Homo sapiens: one gene and its partners. The protein of the gene in region 4 interacts with the protein of the main gene of each other region in a pairwise test. Each region holds a gene or a part of one and is shown on either strand. Other genes may lie near its edges.

Region 1 (7,665 bases), on a different chromosome or scaffold from region 4:
TCTCTGCTCACTGCAACCTCTGCCTCCCAGGTTCAAGTGATTCTCCTGCCTCAGCCTCCCGAATAGCTGGGATTACAGGCGCACACAACCACGCCCACCTAATTTTTGTATTTTCAGTAGAGACGGGGTTTCACCATCTTGGCCAGGCTGGTCTCAAACTCCTGACCTCGTGATCCGCCTGCCTCAGCTTCCCAGAGTGCTGGGATTACAGGCATGAGCCACCGCGCCCGGTGCGCCCAGCCCTCTTCTCTCTTCTTTGCATCTCTCTTCCTATCTGGATCCCTCTTTGCTGTCCTTAAAGAGCTGAGATGAGAGATTGAGAAACATCTCTACAAGAAATTGACGTTTTTCTACTTATGGGTAATTAGAAGCTTGTAGTATTTTCAGTCTTCTAAGTATGTTGAAGATATGAGACGTTGGTGATTTTCTTTGTTTCTCCGGTTGGTTGGTCTGTGTAGTTTTTGGACATGTGTTTGGATATTTGGATTTATATAGCTGCCATAATCTTGGCTATGCAGGTAGTCTTTCCTGACACTTCATCCTGAAAGATTTGAAGCCTTTGGACAAATTTTACAGTGGGCTGGGTGCAGTGGCTCACGTCTGTAATCCCAGTGCTTTGGGAGGCTGGGCAGGAAGATTGCTTGAGCCCAGGAGTTTGAGACCAGCCTGGACAACATAGTGAGACCCGTGTCTCTACAAAAAATAAAAAATATGCCGTGTGTGGCGTTATACAACTGTAGTCCCAGCTACTTAGGAGGCTGAGGTGGGAAGATCACGAGCCAAGGAGTTTGAGGGTACGGTGAGCCATGATCGCCTCACTGCACTGGGTGGCACAGCGAGACTGTCTCAAAAAAAAAATTTACAATTAATGTCTGCATATCCTTCACCTAGGTTCATAAATTTGTACTTTTGCTTTATCTACTTGCCTTTTTCTCTCTCTCTACACACACACACACACACACACACACACACACAATTAGTTGAATGAATTGAGAGTAAGTTGCAGAAAACATGACACTTTACTCCAATATTGCATCATACAAAATCATACATCTAGTGATAGGCCATTGTCCTACAGAATCACGATATAATTATCACACTAACCAGCTGTGGTGGTGCACACCTGTAGTCTAAGCTACTCGGGAGGCTGAGGCAGAAGGATCACCTGAGCCCAGGAGGTTGTGGCTGCAGTCTCATATTCATCCCATCATCAGATTTCTCCCATTGTCCTAATAATATTCTTTATAGCTTTTCTTTATCCCTGATCCGAAATTTCATTGAAGATCACACAGTGCATTTAGTTGTCATGCCTCTTAAGTCTTTATTTATTTATTATTTATTTTTTGAGATGGAGTCTTGCTCTGTTACCCAAACTGGAGTGCAGTGGCATGATCTTGGCTCATGCAACCTCCACCCGCTGGGTTCAAGTGATTATCCTGCTTCAGCCTCCCGTGTTGCTGGGACTACAGGTGTGTGCCACCATGCCCAGCTACTTTTTATATTTTTAGTAGAGACGGGAATTGTACCATGTTGGCCAGGCTGGTCTTGAACTCCTGAGCTCAGATGATCCACCCGCCTTGGCCTCCCAAAGTGCTGGGATTACAGGCGTGGGCCACCACACCCAGCCTTAAGCCTCTTTTAACATAAAAGAGTTCACCAGCCATTCTATTTTGTTTTGCTTTTTGAGACACTGATGCTTTGGAGAGTCCAGGCCAGTTGCTTTGTAGATTTCAACTTGTTTGATTGTTTCCTGATGATTAGGTTGGTAGAAATACTACCTCAATGATGGGACCTTCTTAGTGCGTCCATCAGGAAGCACATGATGTGACTGTAATTGGTGACATTAAGTTTGATTCCTTAATAATTAAGGTGGTAACTCCCAGGTTTCTACATTGTAAAGGCATCTTTTGCCGCCCTCCTTTTTATTCCCAAGTAGTTTATTTGGAGATTAGTCCTTTACACAGTAGAGGAGCGGGGAAGGGAGACAGGAAAGGAAAGTTTGACAACAAAGGGTGAGTTTTCAAGCCTGTTGCCACGGGGGAACCTAATTCCACTGGAGAAGCTCATGGCTTGGTGATGTTCCACAGAGGGGTCAGAAATTTAGCGTATTTCAACACCAGCTCCTGTCAGGCACCATTTGAGGGCTGCTGCCAGGGTGGTTCAATTTTCTGGTGCTTACAGCTTGCCATAAACAGGTGCAAAGTAGTCTGGATACCAAAGAAAGCTCTCAGGTAACAAGATGCAGATGTTGGCATTTGGAAGTCAGAATAGGGTGCACTATTGTGGTAAGAGCTGAAGGGATGGCTGGGCGCGGTGGCTCACACCTGTAGTCCCAGCACTTTGGGAGGATGAGGCAGGCGGATCACCTGAGGTCAGAAGTTCGAGAGCAGCCTGGCCAACATGACGAAACCCCGTCTCTACTAAAAATACAAAAATTAGCCAGGCGTGGTGGTGGATGCCTGTAATCCCAGCTATTCAGTAGGCTGAGGCAGGAGAATTGCTTGAATCTGGGAGGTGTAGGTTGCAGTGAGCTGAGATCACACCACTCTGCACTCCAGCCTGGGTGACAGAGCGAGACTCTGTCTCAGAAAAAAAAAAAAGCTGAAGGGATGCTGAGTAGAGCATCCGTAGTGTCTGCTATACCTGGGTACCCTAGAACCTGGAGAACCTACAGCTTGAGGCAAGAGCGTATGTGCTATTATTTTTTCAAGAAGTGTGCTCTCAGGAAGCAGAGGTAGGGGAAAGGTGAGTGAAGGGAGAAGGAAGATTAAGTCAGTTCAAGGGTGCATTTTGAAGTTGGTTGCCCTTGGTGCAAGTACAGTTGGTTGCTTGTTCTCCTAAAGCTGTCTCCCAGGAGGATGTATACATAACTGCATTCCAGGGCAATCCATCTAAAGGAAGGGTGGACGGACCCCTCAGCTTCTGTATCTCACTGGAAAAAGGTTTGCTTCATGGCACATTAATTCCCATAGACTTCTAGGTTGTGCATGTGTGGGTACCAGGTGGGTCCCACAGACCCTTACACCTCCAAGGCAAGCAGCAAGCCACGGGTGGGAAGTGATAGGTACCCAGTATGAGCAGGAGGTAAGGGACCGTGGGGTTGTGCCTGTGGGCAGTTGGTTATAACCCAGACGTGTTTGATCAGCCCAGTGACAGCTGGAGTGGACAAAGTGACCAAGGGCCTCAAGGACACACAAGGCCAAGAAGATTTGAAGTGCTGTGTAAGATATGCCTAATGCATTTGGATTCTACCTTTGTTTAACGAATATGCACACATAAAAAACACTTGAACTCCTTGAGCCCAGGAGTTCAAGACCAACCTGGGCAACATAGTGAGACACTCATCTCTAAAAAAATTTTAAAAAAAATTAACCTGGCATGATAGCACTCACCTGTAGTCCTGTCTACTCTGGAGGCCGCAGTGGGAGGATCACCTGAGCCCTGGAGGTCAAGGTTACAGTATGCTATGATTGCACCACTGCATTCCAGCCTGGGTAACAGAGCAAGACGCTGTCTCTTAAATTTTTTTTTTTTTTTTTTTTACTTTTATAATGGAAAAACCATTGTAGACAGTTTTAGGAAGGAAAGCAGAATAGTAAGACATCTTTTTCAAAGTAAAAGAGCAAAAAAGGCAAAAAATATTTCACATTTACTTTATGGACAAAGATAAGATTGTCCTTCAATAAAAGACTGAATTTTTTTTGTTTGTTTTGTTTTGTTTTTTGAGAAAGAGTCTTGCTCCATTGCCCAGGCTGGAATGCAGTGGTGTGGTCTCGGCTCACTGCAACCTCCGCCTCCCGGGTACAAGCAATTCTCCAGCCTCAGCCCCCCGAGTAGCTGGGACTACAGGCACGCGCCACTGCATCTGGCTAAGTTTTGTATTTTTAGTAGAGATGGGGTTTCACCATGTTGACCAGGCTCGTCTTGAACTCCTGACCTCAGGTTATCCACCTGCCTGGGCCTCCCAAAGTGCTGGGATTACAAGTGTGAGCCACCGTGCCCGGCCACAAGTTGCTCTTTAAATGTGAGAAGTGTTCTGGCATGGTGGCTCACACCTGAGGCGGGTGGATCACTTGAGGTCAGGAGTTCGAGATCAGGCTGGCCAACATGGTGAAACCCCGTCTCTAGTTATTTATTTATTTATTTATTTATTTATTTATTTATTTATTTTTTTGAGACGGAGTTTCACTCTTGTTTCCCAGGCGGGAGTGCAATGGCGCAATCTCGGCTCACTGCAACCTCCGCCTTCCGGGTTCAAGCGATTCTCTTGCCTCAGCCTCCTGAGTAGCTGGGATTACAGGCATGCACCACCACACCCGGCTAATTTTGTATTTTTAGTAGAGACGGGGTTTTTCCATGTTGGTCAGGCTGGTCTCGAATTCCTGACCTCAGGTGATCTGCCCTCCTCAGCCTCCCGAAGTGTTGGGATTACAGGCGTGAGCCACCACGCCCGGCCCTGTCTCTACTAAAAATGCAAAATTTAGCCGGGCATGGTGGCGCACACCTGTAATCTCAGCTACTCAGGAGACTGAAGCAGCAGATTCGCTTGAACCCAGGAGGTGAAGGTTGCAGTGAGCTGAGACCACACCACTGCAGGGCAGCCTAGGCGACAAGAGCGAAACGCTTACAAAAAAAAAAAAAAAAAAAGATTCACAGGTGATGGTGATGCTGCTGGTTAAGGAAGTGAAGTGGCTTTTTGCTCTGTAGCCTTCCTGAATGTTGGGGCCTCCTGCTCTTCATTTGTTTCATTTCTATTAAGTCTCCTCCCTCCAGCTATCTTGTTAGCTCCTGGAAAGCATTTCAGTGATTGTGGCTTCTATTTCTTTTTGACCCCACAGTGTCCAGGGTCATGCTGCCTATATAGTAGTGAGCAGTAAGTTGAGGTTTTTAAAAACTTTATTATTATTATTTTTGAGATGGAGTCTTGTTCTGTCACCCAGGCTGGAGTGCAGTGGCACAATCTCAGTTCACTGCAACCTCTGCCTCCCAAGTTCAAGTGATTCTCCTGCCTCAGCCTCCCGAGTAGCTGGGACTACAGGCGCCTGCCACCACATCCGGCTAATTTTTTTGTATTTTTAGTACAGATGGGGTTTCACTATGTTGGTCAGGCTGATCTCGAACTCCTGACCTCAGGTGATCCGCCTGCTTTGGCCTCCCAAAGTGTTAGGGTTACAGGTGTGAGCCACCACACCTGGCCGGTTTTTTTAAACTTTAAAACAGATTCACTTGATTTTTCTTCCCTACCCCCCAGCTTTTTTGAGGTATGACTGACAAAAATTGTATATATTTAGGGTGTACAATGTGATGATTTGATATGTGAATGCACTGTGAAATGATTACCACAGTCAAGGTAATTCACATATCCACCACCTCCCAGTTACCCTCTTAGCTAGTACAGGTTGGGTATTGCTTCTCTGAAATGCTTTGGGACCAGAAGTGTTTTGGACTTCAGATTTTGGAATATTTGAATATATATAATCAGATATCTTGGGAAGGGGACCCAAGTCTAAACATGAAATTCATTTGTTTTCAGAGCCTAAAGATGATTTTTTTTTTTTTTTTTTTTTGAGATGGAGTCTCACTCTCGCCCAGGCTGGAGTGCCGTGGCACAATCTCAGCTCACTGCAACCTCTGCCTCCCAGGTTCAAGCGATTCTCCTACCTCAGCCTCCCAAGTAGCTGGAATTACAGGCTCGCACTACCACACCCGGCTAATTTTTGTATTTTTATAAAGACATTTCACCATGTTGGCCAGGCTGGTCTCAAACTCCTGACCTCAGGTGATCCGCCCGCCTCAGCCTCCCAAAGTGCTGGGATTATAGGTGTCAGTGACTGCGTCTGGCTGATAATTGAATTTTTCTCTTGGAGAAGCTGAATAAACTGTGTGTTGTGTGCCTGCCTTTTTTTTTGTTTTTTTTTTTTTTTGAGACAGAGTCAGACACTCTGTCACCCAGGCTGGAGTGCGATGGGGTGGTCATAGCTCACTGCAGCCTCAAACTCCTGAGCTCAAGCGATCCTCCCACATCAGCCTCCTAAGTAGCATAGCACCACGCCTGGCTAATTTTTAAATTTTTTGTAGTGATGGGGTTTTGTTGTCTAGGCTAGTCTCAAACTCCTGGGCTCAAGCAGTCCTTCTGCCTTGGCCTCCCAAGGTGGTAGGATTATAGGTTTGAGCCACCATGCCTGGCCATTACCTGTGTTTTGACTATAACACATCATGTTGGCACTCAAAACGTTTTGGATTTTGGAGCATTTTGAATTTTGGATTTTTGGATTAGCAATGTTCCACCTATAGTACATTTTTTGTTTGCTTTCCCATAAAGAATTTTTTGTAATTTTGATTTTATAGTTCTAAATGTAATATATTCTTATTGTAAAAATCACCTTTAATAGCACCGCCAGAATAGCAAACATGTTAACAGAAAGGTAGAAGTAGACCTTAAAGAATCTTCAGCAGCTTGAGAGACCACAGCTAACCACTGAGGAACTCTGTTCTGGATTGGAGCAGTGCTTAGAAGCTTATAAATAACTCTTAGGGTATTGCATAGGGATTCTTTTTTTTTTTTTTTCCTGAAATGGAGTCTCGCTCTGTCGCCCAGGCTGGAGTGCAGGGTGTGATCTCAGATCACTGCAACCTCCGCCTCCTGGGTTCAAGCAATTCTTTGCCTCAGCCTCCCGAGTAGCTGGGATTACAGGCGCCTGCCACCATGCCCAGCTAATTTTTTTGGATTTTTAGTAGAGAGGGGGTTTCACCATGTTAGCCAGGATGGTCTCCATCTCCTGACCTTGTGATCCACCCACCTCGGCCTCCCAAAGTGCTGGGATTACAGGCATGAGCCACTGTGCCTGGCCGCATAAGGATTCTTTATGTGATTTTTCAGTAGAGGCTCTTGCCTTTTACTTTAAACATTCTTTGAGGGTTGTTTTTTTTTTCCGCTTTTTATTTATATAGAGGTCAACCAGAATCAAGATGTCTGGGACTGAGGAAGCAATTCTTGGAGGACGTGACAGCCATCCTGCTGCTGGCGGCGGCTCAGTGTTATGCTTTGGACAGGTAACTGTGGTTCCTTCATGCCGGGAAAGAATGAGGTGAAGTGAGTAAAGTTAGGGCAAGGCAGTTTGTAGAGCATCGTAGTACATGTGTGAGCAGTACCTAGTACGTTTACCTAGTACGTGTGTGAGCAGTACCTAGTACGTTTACCTAGTACGTGTGTGAGCAGTACCTAGTACGTTGACGCGGTGCGTGCGGGGGCAGTACCTAGTACGTTTACATAGTACATGTGTGAGCTATTTGTTATTGGTTTTTCCTTTAGATGCATTTTTTGGGAGTCTTGTGAACTCTGGAGGGCATTTTGGAATGTTAGCTATCAAAAGACTGATAGTACTGGGGATTAGATTTAGATTTTAAATTTTTTGTGGGGGGGGATAGATAACATATTTGTATGACATCAAATTCAAAATGAAACTGTGAAAATCTCCCTATTTCCTATTGCCCCTGTGTGCATGCCACCCAGTTCTATTTCTTTTTTTTTTCGAGACTGAGTCTTGCTTTGTCACCCAGGCTGCAGTGCAGTGGTGCGATCTCAGCTCACTGCAACTTCCACCCTCTGGATTCAAGCAATTCTCCTGCCTCAGCCTCCCAAGTAGCTGGGATAACAGGCATGCA
Region 2 (7,665 bases), on a different chromosome or scaffold from region 4:
TCACATCCAGAAGCGACCTCTCTGACTCGAGTAGTGAAACCAGAAAGCCGTCCAGCCATGGCAGCCGCTCCATCTGTGCATATACGACACAAAATGACCAATTCAGTTTTCCTGATATGTAATCGTTCAAAAGACTTGAATAGTTCTGCAGCTGTGGTGCTGGTTGGCAACGAAGTACACATAACATAGTCTCATGCACATCCTCCTGAAAATATATTGCACAAAAACAAGCATTGTTGCCATGTTGTCAACATCGGCAGACTTGTCAACCTGCAATGTGTACCACGGTGACTCATCAATCCTCTCTAACAACTATGCCTCAATATCCTCTACTATGTCATCAATTCATCTAGTTATGGTGCTAGCTCAAAGAGGAACATGTGCCACCTTTTGAACTGCAGCTTAACTGCAGCCTCTCCTAAAAGTTCATGACAAATGTCCTTAGCAGCAGGCAGGATCAACTCTTCAATAGTAAAGGGCTTCTTACTTTAGCAATGCAGTTAGTTAAGGGCTTCTTAGCTTTAGCAATGCAGTTAGCCACTAAGAATGAGATGTTCTCAGTGCAGTCACATTTGATGAAGTGGGAGCTTTCAATAATTGCCTCTGTTTTTCACGTTCATGTTTATTTCTTTTGAAAAACTCCAAAGGCTTGTCTTTTAAACGCAGGGTGCTTGGTCTCCAAGTGGTGAAGCAGTTTTTTTTTTGTTTGTTTGTTTTTTGAGATGGAGTCTTGCTCTATCGCCCAGGCTAAAGCACAGCGGCACAATCTCGGCTCACTGCAACCTCCGCCTCCCAGGTTCAAGCAATTCTCATGCCTCAGCCTCCCGAGAAGCTGGGACTAAAGGTGTGCACCACCATGCCTGGTTAATTTTTGTATTTTTGCAGAGCCAGGGTTTCCCCATGTTGGCCAGGCTGGTCTTGAACTCCTGACCTCAGGTGATCTACCTCGGCCTCTGTAAGTGCTGGGATTACAGGCATGAGCCACTGTGCCCAGCCAGTGAAGTGGTTTTGAAGGTTTCATGGCTTTGTTGGATAGCTTGTTGCCACATATTATACAAAGTGGGCTTGGAGAATGTGAATCATCTGTTGCAATGAACCTGTAATTTAAGTAGCACTCTTGGTATTTTCTTTTCAATGAAGCTTTCTTTTCATTGGCAGTCTTGTCTTCTGCTGTCTCATTATTGGGTCTTTCCCCCTTCTCAAAGAAGCTCTCCAGCGACGTTTTTTACTCATGTTGGATAGTTAGCTTGTGGGCCTAACAAAACTGTGACTGAGACAAATACGCAGTGCGGGAAAGAGGTGTGGATGGAAGTGGTAAATAAAAAAATGGGCAGGCCATGCACTGACTAAAAAAAGCATCAGATTCTGACTTAAAGCCTGTCACCAGATACAGCTGTACAACTGAAGTACACCAACTCACTTGCCACTATAAAGCCTGCCACCAGATGCAGCTTGTCACTTGCCACTCACAGATAGGGGTTGATGAGTCTGCAAGCAATTGATTTATTATCATCTCTGTAAAGTCAAACCTCTTTGCTAATGTTAATCTGTATTTGCAGCCACTCCCCAGTGCTAGCATCACCACCTCAGCTCTAGCATCACCACCTCAGCTCCACCTCGGATCATCAGGCATTAGATTCTTCTAAGGAGCACACAACCTAGCCCCCTCACATGTGCAGTTCACAATAGGATTCTCGTTCCTATGAGAATCTAATACCACCATTGATCTGACAGGAGGTGGAGCCCAGACAGTAATGTGAGCAATGGGGAGTGGCTGTAAATACAGATGAGGCTTCCTCACTGCTCATGCGGCCTGGTTTCTAACAGGTCATGGAGTAGTACCAGTCTGTGGCCTGTGGGTTGAAGACCCCTGAAGTAGGAAGACTTAAGAACAGCAGAGTGGCAAGCCTGTAAGAGCAAGCGGTTTACAGTTTAAACGCACAGCATCCTAACTTAGCTTGTAGACTTCAGGAAATGCTTCCCGGGCCAGGTTCAGTGTCTCATCCCTGTAATCCCACCACTTGGGGAGGCTGAGGTGGGAGGATCCCTTGAGGCCAGGTGCTTATGAAATAGGCCTTAGCTATAAATTTAATGGAATGCCTACATTCAAAAAATACACGCGTGCGCACGCACACAAACACACACTATTTTCCTCAATAGTAAGAACATCTAGTAGCTTTTTTTTTTGAGACACCCTGTCTGTCTTCTGAGACGGAGTGCAGTGGGGAACAATCATGGCTCACTGTAGCCTCAAACTCCTAGGTTCAAGTGATCCTCCCACCTCGGCCTCCAGTCTTCTGAGTAGCTAAGACTCCAGGTGTGCGCCACCACACCTGGCTAATTTTTTTTTTTTCTATTTTCTGTAGAAACAAGGTATTGCCATGTTGCCCAGGCTAGTCTCAAACTCCTGGGCTCAAGCAATGCCCCCTGCCTCGGCCACCCAAAGTGCTGGGATTACGGTTGTGTGCCACTGCGCCCGGCCAACATCCAATAGCTTTTATCAGAGGCTTTGAAAGGCAGACATCAGGTTCACCAGATGCTGAGCCTACTCACCTTCGTCCTCCTCCTCTTCATCCACACCATCCACCTCGGCATCTGAGTCAGGTGCTTCCTGGTCCTCTCGGTCATAGCCATCCAAGTAGGTAAGCTGGGGCAGGAGCTTGAAGACACTCTCTCGGTAGTCATTCAGGTTGGTAACCTCACAGTTAAAGAGGTCCAGGCTTTTCAGACATTCTAACTTTTTCTGAAGAAAAGGATCAAAAACCACAACTCCTAAACCAAAGGAATATAAGTAACAAATCCATCTCTTGAAGAGGTAAAATTCTAGGCTCTATATTCAATTTCCACTACCCACTCAGCCTCATATATAGAAAAATACATCAAGTCTTTTGCAACCTTTATATTAGGTTACTAGACTTTAGTCCCTCTCTTCCTTTATCTACTCTCCCAGAGAACTATGTGTTTTTCTGGCAGCATAGTAGTCTAAAGAAATATAAATTGAAAATAATTTTTATTAAATCCAGGTATTTTCACAGTATGAGACAATCAAACAGTTTAATAAATTTAGCTGAAACAAATGTTAACATTTGAGTAATCAAATGGCCATTAAGAACTTCCTGGGTATCAAGCGGTCTTTAATGTTCTAGGGTGGCAGTATAGGGAAAAATTCAGAGATTTATAACACAATCTTAGGGTGCTTACAATTTTAGTTAGGGCACAGACATGAAACACTAGAGGATGAAATATAATAAAATATAAAGTGTGGCAATGCAGCTACTTTCAGGGAAGACAGGAGTCAATATGGGCTGAGGAAAAAGCAGAGGGGCGCAGAGTTGAAACTTCGGAAATACGGAGAAACATTGCACTCTTCTTTTTTAGTATTTGGGGAAAAGACTGACATGTTACCAGACTTTTATGATGTAAAGTTCTTCTGATTTTATTTACCATACCTTGAAATTTTGTTGCAATACCTCATTTCTTTGGAACCATCAGTTTCATCTATCTAAAAACAGTTAAGCTATAAAAAGTTGGCCCAAGTCAAGTTTTCTGAGTAGTCAAAGTGCACTGGAAAATGTCTATGTATTTACTCAGATCTTCATTTGTTATTATATCAGTGTACTAGTATTTCAATCCCAGGTCTATTAAGTTTTGATTAAGGGTAAATTAAGAGATTGAGAGGGCAGAGGTACTACACTATAGGCAAGTCAGGAGACAGCAACAGGAAGTGACAGCAGACCCTTGTAGATAGAAGAGGGAGCAGCCTATGAAAGGCAAATCCAATGTGAAGTAGCACATAGCCTGGTGCCTTTCAGAATAGGGGCAATAACTACATATATCTGGATAGCTTCATAAACACAACCTTTAATGGTTCTGAATCAAGAGAAAAACTTCGGTATTCTCTAAGAAGATAGTACTAAAAACACCCAAACAAACTTTAAGAGGACCTCCACATAAAATAATTTCTAAAAAAATAAATGTTGATGCTTAACAGGTTTTGCTGCTTTATTAGGAAAGCTGTTACAACACTCACAAGGACCTGAGAAGAAATGCAGACAAAACAAAACCTTATTTTCAGAACTCAAGGTATCTATGTAGTTCTGAGGAGATATAAAATGGTGTGAAAATCTGCCTCAAGGCTCTAGAGCAGGGGTTGGGAACCGGTGGTCCAGTGGCCAATTCTGGCCCACCACTTGTTTTTGTAAAATAAGCTCCATTGGAACACAGTCACACTCATTTATTTATGTATGGCTCCTTATGTACTAAAATGGCCAAGCAGACTAGTTGTGACAGAGACTATATAAACAGGCTACAAAGCCAAATGAACCTACTATTTGGCCCTTAGAGAAAAGGGCTACTGACCCCTGCACATGAAGAACTTCATCTTCTTGATGAAGAAAGAGGCTCCCACACTTGTTTTATTCATGCAGGGAACACACAGCAGGGTTACAGCAACAGGAAAACGTTGCACCCCTCAAAACACAAATTGTACAATGATCCAAGAGTCTGTGGATCAAACAATGTGCTTATATAGTCAGTTCCTTGACGTTTTAAGAAAGCTGTCCCCAGCCCTTCTGGTCATAGAGCTGCTTTTGTATCATGTAATTTTCAGATTAGCTTCCCTTCCAGTCAGGCCCTGACTTCCAGAAGCCCAGGTATGACTTCTTGCCAAAGAGGAAAAAAATGCTGCAATGCCACCCCAGATGGCTAGCTAGCATACTGGCTTTCTCTTCACAAAGGCTGACTCGATGCCAGCTAGAGTCAGCTTTAGGCAGCTTTTCCAAAAAGGTTCACTCTAAAAATTCTCCACTTAAAGGAATGAGCCATTTATATTTCAGAATTATTTCCTAGAAATAGGTGCACAAAAACACATACAACCTCTGATATTTATCTAATGCTTTTTAATACCAAAAGCCCTTTCTCTATCTAGTTTCATTGACTCTTCCAGTACACAGGGCCTCCAAGGCTCTCCTGTTTCTGAAACTGTACAATTATGTGAGATTTTTGGCTACTTCCTGGCAAAGCACCCCTTCTCAAACAATTTGGACATGCCAATCAGTAGTTTGAAAAATGAAATGAAAGCAAGAAAACAACAAAAATCCCAAATAACTGTAGTACTCTGGAACTGCTGAAAGTAGTAAAATTGTGCTTTAAGGCCCAATAGGCACAAAATACACTACACACAGATTATTCAGGATCCCAATGTAATGTGTAAATACTGATTAAAAAAAATTACAACTCTACCATACCAGAAATTTGATGTAAGCTAATAGGCTAGCCATAATAAACATTAAACATTTTATTAACAATAATTTTGCTTGCCTTCTTAGAATTTAGAAGGGCTTTGGGGGATGGTTTGGATGGCCCAGGTCTCTTAAAAAAGGTGTCCAAGGAAGTTTGAATTGATGCCTTCTTTGTCTCTCGATTAATGTCCCTGTAGCAAGCAGAGGCATTCACAATCATTGCATTGACTATAAGAACTGGGCTCAAAGTAGACGGTGTTCAAAATGTATGTGGTTAATGAGGATGAGGATGGTGTTTTTCCCCACTGAAGAATACTGCCAGAAGTCAAAATGGACCCAACTCTTCCCCCCTTCACCTTCTCCTACAGATTTACTTAATTCCAAGTTAGAACTTCAGGAGACCAACCTAGCACCGCCAGGAATCTGAGTGCCAAGTATAGCAGAATGGCGGGACCCCAGGCTTTTCGAAATAGCTCTGGTGTGTAGCCCTGTGGCTCTGCCACAGGGTGTGTGACTCTGGACAAGGGATTCAGCCTCACCCAAGCCTTAGCTTCCTCAATATAAAACAAGGGCCATGCTATTTCTATCCACTTTGTATCGAAGGTTTTTTTTTTTACAATTACTAATAAAACATGCATAAAGCACCCAGTAAATGTATGGGTATAGCAGATCCTCTAAAAATGGTGAACACAACGAAGATTACTTTTTATCCTTCACTATCCTGGGGGACTGAGACTTTCACAGCCACCAGAGGGTCCTCTCATACATTACTGACCAGATCAGGAAAAAACTCAAGCAAACAACTCCCACACAGTATTTGCTTCTGCTCCATTGCTGTGTGCTACAACACTGAAAAAGGCTTCTGATAATCAGAGGATTCAGGCTGCCACGAGAACTAGGTAATGGCCAGTCATCAACTGGCCAACAGTGAAAAGGTACTGCCTGCTACTCTGTTCTTTAAAAATTAAAAGAGAAGGCCAGGCATGGTGGCTCACGCCTGTAATCCCAGCGCTTTGGGAGGCTGAGGCAGGCGGATCACGAGCTCAGGAGATCGAGACCATCCTGGCAAACACAGTGAAACCCCATCTCTACTAAAAATACAAAAAACTTAGCCAGGCATGGTGGCAGGTGCCTGTAGTCCCAGCTACTTGGGAGGCTGAGGCAGGAGAATGGCGTGAACCCAGAAGGCGGAGCTTGCAATGAGCCGAGATGGCGCCACTGCACTCCAGCCTGGGTGACAGAGCGAGACTCCGTCTAAAAAAAAAAAAAAAAAATTAAACCAGAAAAAAAAAGGGGGGTGGCGGGGAGAAGGGTTTCTTATGCTCACAACCTAGGATTAGTATGTCTGTCACTAACCAATAAACAAAGGCTTAGTGTAGCCCATGTGAACGGGAAAGCATCAGCAGTTAAAATTTGGTGCTCCTGTTGGAATTCCCAGCTTAAGGAAATTTGGGCATGAAATAAATTTACAGGTGGAAAGAGAAGAAGAGGTCCCAAGGGCTATGGAAAACACAGCAGACTTCGAATTTTTTTTTTTTTTTTTTTGAGATGGAGTCTTGTTCTGTCACCCAGGCTGGAGTGCAGAGGCATGATCTCAGCTCACTGCAACCTTCGCCTCCTGGGTTCAAGTGATTCTCCTGCCTCAGCCTCCCAAGTAGCTGGAATTATAGGCGCCTGCCACCACGCCTGGGTACTTTTTTGTATTTTTAGTAGAGATGGGGTTTCACGTTGGCCAGGCTGGTCTCAAACTCCTGACCTCAAGTGATCTGCCCGCCTCGGCCTCCCAAAGTGCTGGGATTACAGGCGTGAACCACCGTGCCCAGCCTAGACTTAGATTTGAATCCCTACTCTGCCATTTCTCCTGAGCAATTATCTACATTCTCTAAACTCAGCTTCCTCATCTCTAAAAAGAGGACAGTCATTCTCTCTTCTCTGGGTTACTTAAGGATACAATGGGCAAATGTTCATGTCCTTGGATGCAGCAAAAGTCAGTAAATGTCGGCTTAAATACTGGAAATGGGGGTTGGTTTGAAGGAAACGAATAAAACTAGTAAGAGCCCGAGTATCTGGGTATACCTGTAATAGGAAAAAGGGCAAAATGCATGGAGCACTGGTGAGGCATCACATTTATGAGAAATAAGCTCTTAAATATGGACAACTTAAAGAAATGTAAAAATAAAGAGACTCAGCCGGACATGGTGGCTCAGGCCTGTAGTCCCAAACACTTTGGGAGGTCGAGATGGAAGGATCACTTGAGGGCAGGAGTTCAAGACCAGCCTGGCCTAACATAGTGAGACCTCTCTAAAAGAATACATATACACATGCACAAAGAGATTCAGTAAAAGGTAATTAAATCTGTATTGCAGCAGTCTCAATAATTGTTTAGGAAGGAAAAGATCTTCTAACTCTTGACAGGAAGTCCTCT
Region 3 (7,665 bases), on a different chromosome or scaffold from region 4:
TAATGCATTTTCATTAAGGATAACTTGAAAAACAATGGAAGGTATAAGAAAGAACATGAAAATCACCTAATAAGCTTATAGACCAAAGACAACCACTAATGGGGGGTGCTTTTCTTCTAAATTTTTCACTATAAATACATTTCGGCCGGTCACGGTGGCTCACACCTGTAATCCCAGCACTTTGGGAGGCCGAGGCGGGCAGATTACAAGGTCGTGAGTTCTAGACCAGCCTGACCAACATGGTGAAACCCTGTCTCTACTAAAAACACAAAAATTAGCCCGGCATGGTGGCGGGTGCCTGTAATCCCAGCTACTCAGGAGGCTGAGGCAGGATAATCGCTTGAACCCGAGAGGCGGAAGTTACAGTGAGCCAAGATCATGCCACTGCACTCCAGCCCGGGCGACAGAGCGAGATAGTATCTCAAAAAAAAAAAAAAAAAAATTCTATGGAGAAAAACTTTTAAAATAATAGAGCCAAAAATTAAAGAAGACAACAATTTTAACACTCAGTCGCATTACCACATAATTCTGGTAACATATCAGAATTACTTCTTCTTTAGACTTAGCACCTACAGCTAGTTTTGGGGTAAGAGACTAGTTCTATGATGGTATTCCATGATGTGTTCTTACTTAGCAAATCTTGGCTAGTTCTTTGATTTGTGGGCTATTTTTACATGGAAGATCTGTTACCAAAAATTTTATTTCATAATTGTTTAATGAAAGAAAGAACCAAAAAAAGTTCCCAAAGGAAAAGACAAAATACTCCATTCTATCTGGGCCCTCTTTGGAGATTTACTGAATGTAAAGATCATCCACAAACACAAGCTAATTACAAATCACATAACACAAGTTTAAGATTACCCAACATATTTATTCATATCATTCTTGTATTTACCAAGACTACTGGTAAAATAAATAAAAGTTGTAGACCCTCTCCCCAGAAAAATCACAAATTAATCCCAAGTGGCATTAATTTATTTTGAGGGTGGCAAGCAAAAGTATGGATATCACTGCCCCAGAAACTAGGGCCTAGCTGACAAAACTGCCTCCTAATCTAATTTCAAAGATGCAAAGATTAGCAGAAGGAAGTAAAAATTACCAATTATCTAAAATTTCAAAAAGAAATATTTTGGAAATCAAGTAAGATCTAGTGAACACATAATGTGCTTGAATTTCTTAATTTTATTCACGACTTTAGAAATGTGAATGCCAGCAATTTCTTAGCATTAAATCATCCTGGATCTCAAAGTATTCCATAATCGTCATATTTCAGAAAGACACTACAAAAACCATCAACGGTATTTTCATTTCATGGTCAGAAAAAATTTGCAAGGAGAAAATAAATGTCTTGCCCCATATCACTAGACTGAAATATTTGTGCATTTAAAATTTTTTCCAAAGCATAAGCAACACCTAACTTAAAAATGAATTTTTTCTGACAGATGAGCCAGCTTGGTAGAAAAATTTTTTTCCAACAAGCACAATCTATCAATTTGTTTTCTTTCAAAACACTTTCCCTTTAAAACAATAGTAATTTGGGCCCAGTGCGGTGGCTCATGCCTGTAATCCCAGCACTTTGGGAGGCCAAGGCGGGCGGATCACAAGGTCAGGAATTCAAGACCAGCCTGTCCAATATGGTGAAATCCCATCTCTACTAAAAATAAAAAATTAGCTGGGCATGGTGGCAGGCGCCTGTAATCCCAGCTGCTTGGGAGGCTGAGGCAGAAGAATCGCTTGAACCCGGGAGGCGGAGGTTGCAGTCAGCCAAGATCATACCACTGCACTCCAGTCTGGGTGACAAAGCGAGACTCTATCTCAAAAAAAAAAAAAAAAAAGTGATTTGATTCCCCTACCCCATAAAGCCTACTGTATCTACAGTGCATGAATAAACATATACTAAGTGTCAGTCCTAGAGTATAAAAAAACCAAGCAATCCAGAGACTTGACAAAATTCTGAAATCGGTTAAGCTTTGCTTTGGCATTCCTCCTACCTTCCTTCTGGTGCTCCTACTCCCATTTCTAAGAAGTTCCTCGTATCTTTCCAAAGTTCTTCACCTGAGACACCTACTCAAGATTTCTTTCCCTTGATCTGTCTCACTTGTTGAGATAACTGATTTCAGCCAACGAACACAACCAACACTTGATTTAATCATTAACATTTAGTAAAGGCCCTTGACTTTTCTGTGTGTCAACAGCCCCCTTGAAAAATCTCATAAATGTTGTGGACCCTCTCCCCAGAAAAATCACACATGCACTCACACATAACTTTTCAAACAATTTTAAGGGATTCAGGGTCACACAGCCAAAATATATAAACCCCAGAACCAGAAAACCCCAGGTTAAAAACCCCCATACTTAACATATTAATATCATAAAACCTCAAAACTCTGCAAGAGGTTATTTGTATTTTAAGACACTGTCAACTCAAATGAAATCTCCAATTCTCAGAATTTAAGACAATGTAAAAGAGGCAAAAAAAAAAAAAAACAACCCAAACAATATGGAGATTTTTAGGCAGCCTTGTCATTGGGGGTCATCTCCCAAAGCATTTAAGCTGCAACTCCCATTGCAGAGAGACATGGAAGAACAGGACCTATTTCTAAGCATGGGTCTTCTACTAAGTTAGATTCTGTAGGACCTACCCCTGAATTTAGTAATGCTCTAGAAATCTATTCTGTCTAAACTATCATGGTTCCCAGCAAAACAATACATATATATATATATATATATATACACACACACACACACACACACACACACACACGTGTATATATATGTGTGTGTGTGTGTATATATATATATATATATATATATATATATATATATACACGTATGCCAAGTCCAGTTTTTATCCCAATGATTTTTTTTTTTTTAATAGATACGAGGTCTTGCTATGTTGCTCAGGCTGGTCTTGAAGTGCTGGGTTCAAGCGATCCTCCGGCATTGCCCTCCAAACCAATGAACTCTGTGGTATTTCACACGGCTAACTTCCCTGTCAGTATTCACTTAATCCCTCTCTTCAGCTTCTTCAACCCTATAACCTTATCTGTTTAGCCATTCTTTCTCAACTTACTTCATAGGTTTCTATTCTTCTACTTGACCCTCAGATGTAGATGCTCTTCAAGGTTGCCCTTAGTTTTTTTTCTTCACTCCTGATATGGTTAAGCATTCCTAATCCAAAAGTTTAAAATCTGAAATGCTCCAAAATCTGAAACTTTCTGAGTGTTGACATGATGCCACAAGTGGAAAATTCCACACCTGACCTCAGGTGACATGTTGCAGTCAGAATGGAATCAAAACTTTGTTTCCTGCACAAAATTATTTAAAATATTGTATAAAACTGCATCCAGGTTGTAAGATGTATATGAAACACAAATGAATTTCAAGTTTAGACTTGGGCCCTATCTCCAGGGTATCTCATTATATGCATACCAACATTACAAAGTCAAAAAAAACTCCAAAACATTTCTGGTCCTAAGCATTTTGGATAAAGGATACTCAATCTGTACTATTTTCTCTTTCTTTTTTATAGACAGGGTCTTACACTGACACCCAAGCTGGAGTGCAGTGGCCCTATCATAGCTTGCTACAGCCTCAAACTCCTGGGCTCAAGTCATACTCCAGCCTCAGCCTCCCGAGTAGCTGAGACCACAGGTGGCTACCACTATACCTGACAAATTTTTTAAATTTTTGTAGAAACAGGGTCTCACAACGTTGCCCAGACTGGTTTTGAACTCCTGGCCTTAAGTGATCCTCTGCCTTGGCCTCCTAAAGTGTTAGGATTACAGGTGTGAGGCACCATGCCTGGCTTTCTGCAGTTTCTATATGGCATTATACTGATGAATGCAAATCCCCTAATTTATCCCAATGTCCCCTTGAGCTCCAGCCCAAATACCCAGGTACTTACTTGACCTTTCTTGATTCCCAGATATCTTAACACATCTGGAGTCATACTCTATTACCTTCCTCCTCAAATTCTGTTCTTCCTATACATTCCCTATCTTAAAGGCATCATCATCACCCAATAACCACACTATAATCTTTAACTCTTTACTCAATTGTCACTCAAATCTGACAACTGTGAAGTAAAAATTATCCCCAGAATCGATGTCCTTTTACATCACAATTCAATACTCTCACAAGTCTCTAGTCAAATCTTTACATGTCATCTTTTTAAAAACCATAGTGGATGTCCTACTCAAACCTCTTATGGTCCCTAAATGCCTATAGAATAAAGTTCACACTCATGAGCATGGAATTACAAACTCTTCCCAATATGGCCACAACCTTATCAGTTTCACTTTCCACTATTCTCCAAGTCGAGCAAAATCCACTTGCTAGTTCTCAAATCAGACTACTGATGCCCTTCCTCTCAGCCCCTCTTCTCCATCAGTAATGCAGCTACTCCCCCTTCCAAGTCCTACTCAAACTTCCCCTATGTGAAAAGTCTTCCCTAACCTCACTTTTCTCTGTGTATCATTCTCCTCTCCCTAGAAGGAATTTCTCCCTCCTCCTATAATCCCACACCACTCTTTGTTTGCTCTATTTTGGTTCTCTAGAAGTTGTAACATAGCTAGTTGAGCCCATACCTTTCTGCTCTACACGACAAGGCCCAAGATTTGTTACTCTAGCACCTAGTACATGCCCAGAATGTGGTATATCTTTAATCATCGTCAGGTGAATGAATGAGTGGCAAAACTCCAAAGTGAGAATACACTTAAGGAGGTTATTTCTTAATGGAGAGAATGCTTCACTCTCCTTTGAACATAAAACAAGAATCAGGTCCCCTAGTCCCCAACTCCCCATTTCTAGTCCACTGCGCAAACAGTTTTAAGCAATGTTTCATTGGGACATTTCCTCATTTCCCCTTGTTCTTTGTAGGTTTAGCTGCCAGCCTAACCACATTAGCATTCAGTAGCAGCAACAAAACGGACTCTTAAAGTTCTAAAAAGCAAAAACTTTACAATTACCAACAGTAAAATACATGCTCTTTTTAAAAAAAACTGTCTTAATATATATGCATACAAAGCTCATTCTTCATGAAGATTCAGAAAATGGCTTGGCATAGTTTATCCCAACAGGCACCACTTAAAGAGTTCTTAAGAAAATGTCCACTTAAGCCATCAGCCAAACTTTTCACATTTGTTACCACAGAAATCAGCATGCATGAATTAATCGAAATACAATGCATATTAAACAATGCAATTACTATAGTCTAAATCACCAAACTGATAACCCATACAAAAGTAGCTCTTACAACTTTTTTTGAGAATATTTCCCCTAAAAAATTCCAGTGATCATCCCAACCTACAAAACTAGATTATTTTACTAGTATCATCTTCTCTTTACCCCTCTTCTCCCCACCAACACTCCCTCCAACACACACACACTTCTCCTTAAGAGAAACGGCTTCCTCAAGAAATTATCTGATGGTTCAGTAGCAGTTGGAGTTTTACACAAACTATGTTGTGATTGGGCAAGGCAGACTACCAGATCTGGGATTCAGTAGACCATTCCTTACTGTCAGATTATCTTCTAAGTGACTGCTCTTAGAGAAACAACACAGATTTGCCTCAAGAGATTACAAATGTGGTAGGCCTACCTTAACAGCAACTAGTTTTTTTTAAGAAACACGGTCGCACTGTCGCCCAGGCAGGAACACAATGGCATGATTATGCTCACTGCAACCTCAAACTCCTAAGTTCAAGTGATCCTCCTGCCTCAGCCTCCTGAATAGCTCAAACTATAGGCATATGCCACCATACCCAGCTAGTTTTTCGTTTTTTTGTTTTTTTAAATATTCTGTAAAGACAGGATGTCACTACATTGCCCAGGCTGGTCTAGAATTCCTAGCCTCAAGCAATCTTCCTGCCTTGGCCTCCCAAAGTGCTGGGATTATAGGCATGAACCACCATAACCAGCCATTGTTTTCTAATATACTAGAACATCTCTGTAAAGTTTTATTTCTAGCCCTTCTTTGGGTCATAGAAAGTTTACTTGGTATCACATAAATGTTCACATTTTAAAACATTTTAGGCCTAAAGACCACAACATGATGAAGCCTTTTGGATGTTTTGCTAACTACACTGCATTAAGTTGGGCTGAAAATACATTAGCCCAATTCTGAAGTGCACTTTTGAAAAAATAAAAAATATATATATGTGTGTGTGTATATATATATATTCTAAGGTATAAGCAATCCACTTATTTTTCTTGAGCAGTCAAAAATTCCTTTCCCAAGTTTTGTCCATATTGCACTAAAATAACTTCAAACAAAGCATTGTTGTTGCTTGAGGATTAAAAGTTTCCAATAGCTCAATATGGTTTTAATCTCCTGGAAACACCTGAAATTCATTTGTTTCACCTCCTTTTACTATTTATCTTCCAGTCTGTTTACCTTAGTAGAAAACTGATGGATAAAAGTACTAACTGAAAACCCAAGAAAGTGGGTAATCCACCCTCTAGTTAATAAGGAAGGAAATATGATACACAAGGCACAAAAATTAACATGTATCTTGAGACTCAAAAAACATTGGACTTGGTCTAAATAAAATGTTTCTAAAATAACAAGTGGATTCCTTTTTCATTGCTGTTTTACTAAGCATTCATGGAAAATTATATTTGGGTAAGCTCAGGCTGAAAACACTAGCTTTAGCTATCAAGGAAAACATGAAAGAACATAAAGAAAATGTATTTTAGTATAGAACATTTCCTGAAATGTTTTTTACAAAATCAAAGATTTGCATTTTAAGATTGATTTTCCAAATACTCTATATATACATATTAATAAGCATCACACAGTCACACACAAACATCTAAATTCAGATATCCCATTTCCTAGATGATTACTGGCCCAGAAAGGGCGCATCTAAACTCTTGAGGTTAAAGTAGACATTTGTGAAATTCAACAGCCCAGGGAGTTTCCCCTCACCCTTCAATTTTTCACAGTGGCACTGTGTGAATGAATAAGCCTGCTTCAGCATGAAGCAACAGGCTTGTCTAAAGACATCTGACAGAAGCTGAATGTATACATTAACTTCCTGTTGAGGTAGGACTGTAGACTGTTTCTAAAGACTGACAGTTCATAGTTCCTCCAGAAACCAAAAAATCAGCATGCCTTTTCAAATACTCAGGGAAAAATTTTAATTTCAGTAATTACTGTTCATTGTTATTATTCTTCAACTTTACTGAATGCCTTATTCCATACAAGAAAAGGCATAAAAATTTAATCCCAGACCACAGGAGCTTAAATTTCCCTTAAAACAAGTCACTCATTCGTGATTATTTACATAAAATGCTTCTAAAGACAACCCAGAGATTTGGTTGAACCTACAGTGTGCAGGCAATGCAAATTCAGGTATTTAAATCATGGGAAGTTGGCCTTCGGTTCCCTAACAAAATTAGACAAGTGCATAATTATCGTTTAATAAAACAAAAAACCTACAATTTGGGGTCCTAACGACATACACAGGAATTCAGAAGGAAACCTGAAATCCTTTCTCCTTTAAACCTTCTATATCTGGACAAGGGCCCTCATTATCTTCTACTTCTATAGCTCCTTCTCTTAACACAGGAGCTAAATTTCCTTGAAACATGTTATGAAGCCACTGCCAGCACGGTGGCACTTGCCTATAGTCTCAGCTACTGGGGAGGCTGAGGTGGGTG
Region 4 (7,665 bases):
GACTTAGAAATAATATTTTAGTTCCATCAGTAAATTAAAATATGTTTTATTTCAACTTTTGTCTCATTTACATGTAAAAAACAATTAAGAAGTTTATATCATACCTTATTTGCTCTGGAGTACCTCCTGATGTTGCATTAGTTATAGCCCAAGCTGCTTCTTTTCTGGTACGAAACTCTGCTTTCTGAAGAATCTCAATCAAAACAGGAAAAATATTTGCATCTATAACAGCCTGAGAGGGGGAAAAATATATAATCAGTACAAATACTGTTTCTAAAATATTACCAGTAAAAAAAATCTTGAAACTCAATGGCTTCAAAATGTCAAGGTTTTTGGAACCTTGACATTAAAATAAATTTTTAATTTCTATTCTGTCAGCAAACTTTTCAAATATTTTTCTTTTTACATAGGAAATTAGCTTTTTAAAGACTGGAGAATAGCAAAATATAAATTTTAGAGATGATAAAGCACAAGCCATGTGACTGATCAAAATGGATAAGTAATCACTGACACAAGAAGCTTGATAGAACCCTAATAAATCATTAAAAGCTTTGAGAGGAAGATTATTGCATAACTTATTTAAAACTAATGCAAAAAAATATCTTTCTAAAGACAAACCATTATGTGTCAGGCACTGTGCTAGACACACACACACACACACACACTTGATGTTCTTCACTAGAATACTACAAGTAAATGTTATTATTTTAGAGGAGGAAAGCCCATGTTCTTTAAAATACTTTTTCGGTATCTTTTTAAAAAGGAATCTTTTTTAGTAAAAGTGTTAACTTTTGTCCAAACTGGCTTCTTAGACCTTGCTGTTCTACTCTCAGATCTGAAGGGTAGTTACCTGAATCTGAGCTCTATTTCCAGCAGTGATGTTAGAAACAGTCCAGCAGGCTTCTTTTCTAATTGACTCCTTTGGGCTACTCAATAAATGTAAGAGACAGGGTAATGCAGAACAATTCAAAATTACCTAAAACAAGTTAGAAATGGAAACAAAAAGTTTTATAGTAAATAACCTATATGAAAATCTACTAATGAATTATTTAGATGTACAAAACCCATTCTAGAAAGTGAAATTAAGAAAGGAGAAATTCCTCCCAAAGTAAAACTTGCTGTCTTCTACACGTCTGCTATTGATAAACCTAGTCTCCTGCCACTATAAGGAACTGCCCTGTTCTCAACCCAATAAAATGAAAATCAGAGGTGTATCCTTCATATTTACAAATGTTCTCAGAGTTCAACTGATAAAACTGAAAAAAGATTTGGTGACCGAGGTCAGGATCCAACCTCTAGTTTTGCCAAATGAATTGGTGAAAAAAATACATATATCATACAGTCTGAGAAAATCCAATTCTACAACCATTAAAAACAGCATGTAGAATCAATTGGCTTCATAAAAATTTTTACTATCTTACTCTTCTTCTGTAAACAAGTATATTCTGCATTGTCCCTTTACATTCTTTATTCCATTGCAAGATTAATTATGTTCCTATATTCAAAATACTCCAATGATTTACATTAAATTCATCTGGTGAAGAAGTGTGGAGCAGTGCACTGGAAATCCAACTGAAAATTACAGTATATGTCTAGAATGGCATTTTCATTTCAAGAGCTATATTAAATGAATAACTGTCAATTACTAAAGAGCAACTATTTAATAACTATGATTAGTATCCAAATAGGCCTTTAAAAGGATAAAACTGAAAGAAAATATGTAGGTTAGAATAAAAAATACACTGTAAGGCGGTAAACAAAGGAGAATCTAACGTGTTAAATAATTTAAGTTTCTATCTTCAAGAAAGATTGTGCTGGACATACTGGCTCATGCCTGTAAGTCTAACGCTTTGAGAGGCCAAAGCAGGAGGATCACTTGAGCTCAGGAATTTGAGACCAACTTGGGCAACATAGCAAGACCCTGTCCCTAAAAAATAAATAAATAAATAAATTAGCCAGGTGTGGTGGTGCACACCTGCAGTCCCAACTACTTGGAAGGCTGAGGCGGGAGGACTGCTTGAGCCAGGAGGACTGCTTAAGCCAGGGAGGTAAAGGCTGCAGTGAGCCATGATCACACCACTGCACCCCAGCCTAGGAGAAAGAGCAATATCCTGTCTCTAACTAAACTAACTTACTAAATAAATAAAAAGATTGTAACCCAAATCTGGCTGGAGTCAATCTTGACAGCACATCTTCTTTGACATCTCACCATCCTCCAAGACACAGATACAGACACACACACAATTATGGTGATGCTAAAATCTTGATTAATATGTAATCAAGTTGTATGAAACATAAATTTTTTAAAGTCCTTTATGTTAACAATTTATGATACTCAAGTTTGAACTCACCTGTGTTTGAATATCATCACCAGTCACAATATTACCAACTGCCCTTAATGCAGGTGATACAACTTTATAATCATTGTGCCTAAAAATAATAAAAACATGAACCTAAATACTAGTAAGAATTTAAAATTTACACAGAAGTTACAAAAATACTACAAACTCCTGCGGGGTGTTCAGCCAAAGATCCCATTGAAGTTTTACTAATTATTCTGATAATCTTTATAACAAAGGATCTAATCCAGGATCGTTCATTACAGCCAGTTTTCATGTCTCTCCAGAATGATTTCTCAGTCTTCCCTTAATTTTCATGATTTTGCCATTTTTGAAGATCATAAGCCCATTATTTGGGTTTATCCAATGTTTTTCATGATTAAGACCCAGGTTATATACTTTGGCTGGGGGATATCGTAAGTGCTATAACCTTTTCATTATATCCCAATCTGTTTTTTCCCATTATATTGGTACTGAATTCTGGTCACTAATTATGATGATGTCTGCCAGACTTTTCCATTTTACCATTATTGTTTTCCCATTTATAATTAATATAATTAATATTTTGCAACAAAATACTTTGAGATAATGCAAAATCCCACTCCTTAACCTACTTTACCACTAGATTTTAGCATCTCTTGATGCTTATTATCTGAAGTATTGGTAATTATTAGTATTATTACCAGTGATGTATTTCTAATACTATCATTCTAACTACATGCTTTAGTGTGGACTTATGGGTTTCATATTTTATTCAATAAAATATACATTAATGCAATTTATTTCAAAGCACAAACTGTCCCAGGTTTGGATAGTGAGAACCCCTTCAAATAGGCTTCTGTGTTCTTTTGACATCTGTCCATTACTTGAGCACTCATTACTTCCTGCATTCATCTTACATTTTTCTCAGTCCCAGTCCTGAAACCAGTCATTTCTCCAACAATCTTGGTTCCTTTCAATGGAGAGTAGTGTTTAGAAACTTCGATTTGAACTTCAGTTTCCTCAGCTTATTAATGTAGAAGTGTTACTGTTCCCATGCCCTTCAAGAGGATGCACACACACATACCTACACACATGTATATATTTATTTCCATACCTAGCTATGTTAAGAGCCATGAGTTCACACTGATATTTCTAGTTCTAATCTAAAATAATTAAATTATTCAGGCTTTCTCCTCTTCTATATTTTTATCTCTATTCTCCGATAACAGGAAATAGCTTCTATTTTCCTAACCTCCCTATATCAGCCAATCTTTTACCTCAGCCAGACTGGTACCCCATGATGTGCTGGCTCCAAGTCCTGCTCCAGCCTGCTTATCTGCTCACCCCAGTGGGTGTCATTATCAAGTTGGGGCCCTGATCCCCCATGCTGAACCTGCATGCCCACCCTCCACTGATGCTATCCTCATGCTGGGACCCCCAACTCCTTATCAGACCTATCTTTGTGCCATCTACCTTGTTTGGGCCTACAATGGCTTCTCGACAAAAGAAGAAAGGAAGGAAGATAATACATTTTTTAAAGAGGGTAAGTAGATGAAGTTATGAAGTTACAACATCTTTTTAAAACAAGTTTTCTTCAACGTTTTTAACTTCTTTGTATAGAAAAGCTGTTCTTTTTAAGGAAAATAGCTATAACAGCCCAGCAAAGAGAAACATGTTATCTTTAATAGAGGTGAAATACTAAATGATTTTCACTACATGGACTTTTACTCAAATTAATTATTATAATGAATAATAAACTAGATTATTTGTTCTGTGAGAGGAGAAACTGTGTTCTATACTTCATTAATGTCTCACACAACACCTTAGCAGATAACAGGCATTCCATAAATACTTATTAAGTTTATCTAATTCATAAAGAGATCACATTAAACTAAGGAAATTCATTTACAAAATAATTAGTTCCAACTATAGGACATAAGTTCCAAATTTTAGGGTCAACTTTCTAGGATTATGGCTATTCTGTTAAGTGTTGGGTCAGTAGCTTTTTAATTTTCCCTGAAGACAGTGACTCTTGAGATATTTACAAAGCTATTACTTGAATTGCTAATTTTAATCTCAATCATACAATTATTAAGCATAAATTATTTATAGTTACATCAAAAGTTCCACCAATCTTCGACAGACTCCAGAATCAATGACTGCTTGAATTTTATCATTGGGTCCATCGGAGAGATAAGAAAGGGCCCAACACACGTCTGCTAACACATCTGGGTCACTGCTAAACAACAGTCGTGACAGGACATTTAAGCAAGGTGAAACCTGTAAGGGAAGAAAGAGCATATTTAAATTTTTTCTCTATTTAAAACCAAGTTTCCTTAGAAAAATATAGAAATTCATTTTAAAACAAAAATTTAATGTTATAAAAATACCAGAAAATTTATATTGTTTTAAAATTATAATCAGATGTATGAATATGAAGCTGATTATGACTACTATTATGTTATATTGAATAAGATATGTAGTTAAATTTGTTTTAAAAAATAGTAAAATATTTGAGATCTCTTGTCTGTGTCTAAATCACACACACCCCCACAAAAAAAGCATACCAAAACTGAGAAGTTCAAATGTTCCAGTTAAGTGTTTGATATGATGATCACAGAATATAATCTAACTTTAATGAGCCTCACTGTACTCATTACATGTACTTAACTGGAAATAAATCTAATAATCATTTGAGGAACTAAGGTACAGAAAGTACAAAAATAAATATATTTGTGAAGGGTACTCAAGTGGAAGTCATTAATAAACTATTACACTGATAAGAAGGCATGTAGCACCTAAGAACAGTGCCTGACATAGAGTAGGCACTCAAATGTTGGCTTTTTTTAAATTCCCATGATCACTATTGATGCTATGTTCCTTAAAGCTGTTTTTTTAAAATAAGCAACCTAACATATCCCTTAGTCTTTCTCCTCAGTTAAGAAGTATGTTAAGCTGGGCACGGTGGCTCATGCCTGTAATCTCAGCACTTTGGGAGGCCGAGGCGGGTAGATAACTTGAGGTCAGGAGTTCGAGACCAGCCTGACCAACATGGAGAAACCCGATCTCTACTAAAAAACAAAAAAAAAGAACTATGTTATATGTTATGTATCTCACAAATAAAAAGTGATGACATTTTTCTTAAATGTTCTAATATTTTAGATGACTTTTCTCTTTACCCCTATTTTAAAGAATATCAGTATATAAACGATCCTCTTCTGAAAGCAGTTACCATCTCTGCTGGGCCTGTCCTCTAAAGATGATTTTCAAGATTATCAGCATATAAACTATCCTCTTCTGAAAGCAGTTACCATCTCTGCTGGGCCTGTCCTCTAAAGATGATTTTCAAGATTATCAGAATATATACCACATTTTCTGGAAGTAGTTACCATCTAAAGATGACCCTAGGACTCATGTACACAAATCAGTTAGCTTACATAATAGGTATGTCTATCTGTTAGTGGGCAAATAAAATCAGCACAACTGGATCCTTCTCCAGCAATCAAGCTTCCACCCTTGCCAACCACCTCTTCCTTGAACAGAGAAATCAGGGTTTGTTTTTCGTTTTTTGTTTTGTTTTGTTTTTGAGACAGGGTCTCACTCTGTTGCCCAGGCTGGAGTGCAACCTCTGCTTCCTGGGCTCAAGCAATCCTCCAGCCTCAGCCTCCTGAGTAGCTGGGATCATAGGTGTGAGCCACCATGCCCAGCTAATTTTTGTACAGACAGGGTTTCACCATGTTGCCTAGGCTGGTCTAGAACTCCTGTGCTCAAAACAATCCACCCACCTCAACCTCCCAAAATGCTGGAATAACAGGCATGAGCCGCCACACCCAGCCAAATATCGGGTTTTTGAAGCAAATATAAAGTATGTTTAAAAAAATTAATATAGCTGACATATACCTTTTCGCTGAGTTAAAAAACAATGAACTAATACCTATTTCCAGTATTAAGTGAGCAAAGTAAAAACATTTCTGCCCCAGTATCTTCTCAGGAAAAAAAAAAAGAAACAGAAATACAAATTCCAACTTTGAAAAGGCCAGTAGACATTAATAATCCTGCCCACAATATATAAAGACAAAAGTGAATAAAGAAACAGTAACCGACTTAGAAGAGGGGAGAAAAGTGGAAGCTTAATGCCAGGAGAGGGAACTACCAATAAGAGGAAAGCTAATTTATCTCCCCACCATCAACTCCAAATGCTTAGAAATCAGAGGAACCAGGTATCACAGACAGCAGGGGAAACGGTGCTAAAGTAGAGGAAGAGGTTAAAAATCTGATAAGAAGCAGGATAGACTTTGGGTCCCTACTACAAAGGTAGGTGACTAGCATTCTCAATGCTACCAAAGACTGGAAGTTTATTTGAAGGAGAAACTGGACAACAAAATGTGAATCACAGAAACAGAACTTTGGGATATAAAGCACAGTGGAGGTTGAAATGAAGCACTAGACTAGAAAGTAGGAGATAAGTGTAAGTCTGCATACTGACTAGTGAAAACCTCTAGCTCTTTCCCAATACTCAGTTCCCAGATGTTTATTATTTGTATTTTTTATTTTTGAGACAGGGTCTTGCTCTGTTGCCCAAGCTCAAGGTGCAGTGGCATGATCACAGCTCACTGCTGTCTCAACCTCCCAGGATCAAGCAATCCTCCCCATCTCAGCCTCCTGAGTAGCTGGGAGTACAGGCATGTGCTACCACAGTCAGCTAATTTTTTAAATTTTTTTGTAGAGACAGGCTCTTACAATGTTGCCCAGGCTGGCCTCGAACCCCTGGGCTCAAACCATCCTCTCACCTCAGCCTCCCAAAGTGCTAGGATTACAGCATGAGACACAGTGCCCAGCTGCAGGATATGTAGTAGCCAGGTATGTTACCTACTCTATACCTCAACCCAATCTACCCATCTTCCAGCAAAAGAATGCAAAATCTGTCTCTAAAAAAACTGAATGGTCTCACAAAAGAGACTGAAATTTAGTGTTCCTCTAAGAAAATATGGTTTTGCTGCCCAATTATCCTACAATGAAGTCCATTTATACACTCATTTCCAATCAGTTTTTAGTTTCTTCCGAAATTTGTTCAAAAATCACCAGATAAATGAAGACAGCCTCCAACATTAAAGTGATTAAGACAAACCACAAACAAAACAAAAAAAGCACAAAGAAACAAAGATGCCAAAAAACAAACAAACAAATAACACTATAAATCCTTAGATATGACAATTTGCTGGGTCCATAAAAGAACAGAATTCTACATAAAGATGAGCAACCAGAGAGCAAGACAACTACTTATTGAAAAGATAAAATAGGATTGTAGAAATGAAAATTTCCGGCTTGGTGTGGTGGCTCATGC

What was found.
Region 1: the proteins of KPNA5 (region 4) and RAD52 interact in binary tests that used the Homo sapiens proteins (3 or more experiments, as listed by UniProt).
Region 2: the proteins of KPNA5 (region 4) and ANP32B interact in binary tests that used the Homo sapiens proteins (3 or more experiments, as listed by UniProt).
Region 3: the proteins of KPNA5 (region 4) and NRF1 interact in binary tests that used the Homo sapiens proteins (3 or more experiments, as listed by UniProt).

What each region holds. Positions count from the first base shown.
Region 1 is NC_000012.12:932,363-940,027, reverse strand, and holds part of RAD52 (DNA repair protein RAD52 homolog), read left to right. Parts: intron 1-2,576; exon of another isoform or gene 2,577-2,942; intron 2,943-3,145; exon of another isoform or gene 3,146-3,221; intron 3,222-4,159; exon of another isoform or gene 4,160-6,951; 5' UTR 6,952-6,969; coding exon 6,970-7,053; exon of another isoform or gene 7,054-7,187; intron 7,188-7,222; exon of another isoform or gene 7,223-7,665. UniProt on the Homo sapiens protein: Involved in double-stranded break repair. Plays a central role in genetic recombination and DNA repair by promoting the annealing of complementary single-stranded DNA and by stimulation of the RAD51 recombinase.
Region 2 is NC_000009.12:98,000,042-98,007,706, reverse strand, and holds part of ANP32B (acidic leucine-rich nuclear phosphoprotein 32 family member B), read right to left. Parts: intron 2,744-7,665; coding exon 2,554-2,743; intron 1-2,553. UniProt on the Homo sapiens protein: Multifunctional protein that is involved in the regulation of many processes including cell proliferation, apoptosis, cell cycle progression or transcription.
Region 3 is NC_000007.14:129,614,559-129,622,223, reverse strand, and holds part of NRF1 (nuclear respiratory factor 1), read right to left. Parts: intron 1-7,665. UniProt on the Homo sapiens protein: Transcription factor that activates the expression of the EIF2S1 (EIF2-alpha) gene. Links the transcriptional modulation of key metabolic genes to cellular growth and development.
Region 4 is NC_000006.12:116,719,062-116,726,726, reverse strand, and holds part of KPNA5 (importin subunit alpha-6), read right to left. Parts: intron 4,602-7,665; coding exon 4,438-4,601; coding exon of another isoform or gene 4,434-4,437; exon of another isoform or gene 3,403-4,433; intron 2,431-3,402; coding exon 2,352-2,430; intron 977-2,351; coding exon 851-976; intron 233-850; coding exon 105-232; intron 1-104. UniProt on the Homo sapiens protein: Functions in nuclear protein import as an adapter protein for nuclear receptor KPNB1. Binds specifically and directly to substrates containing either a simple or bipartite NLS motif.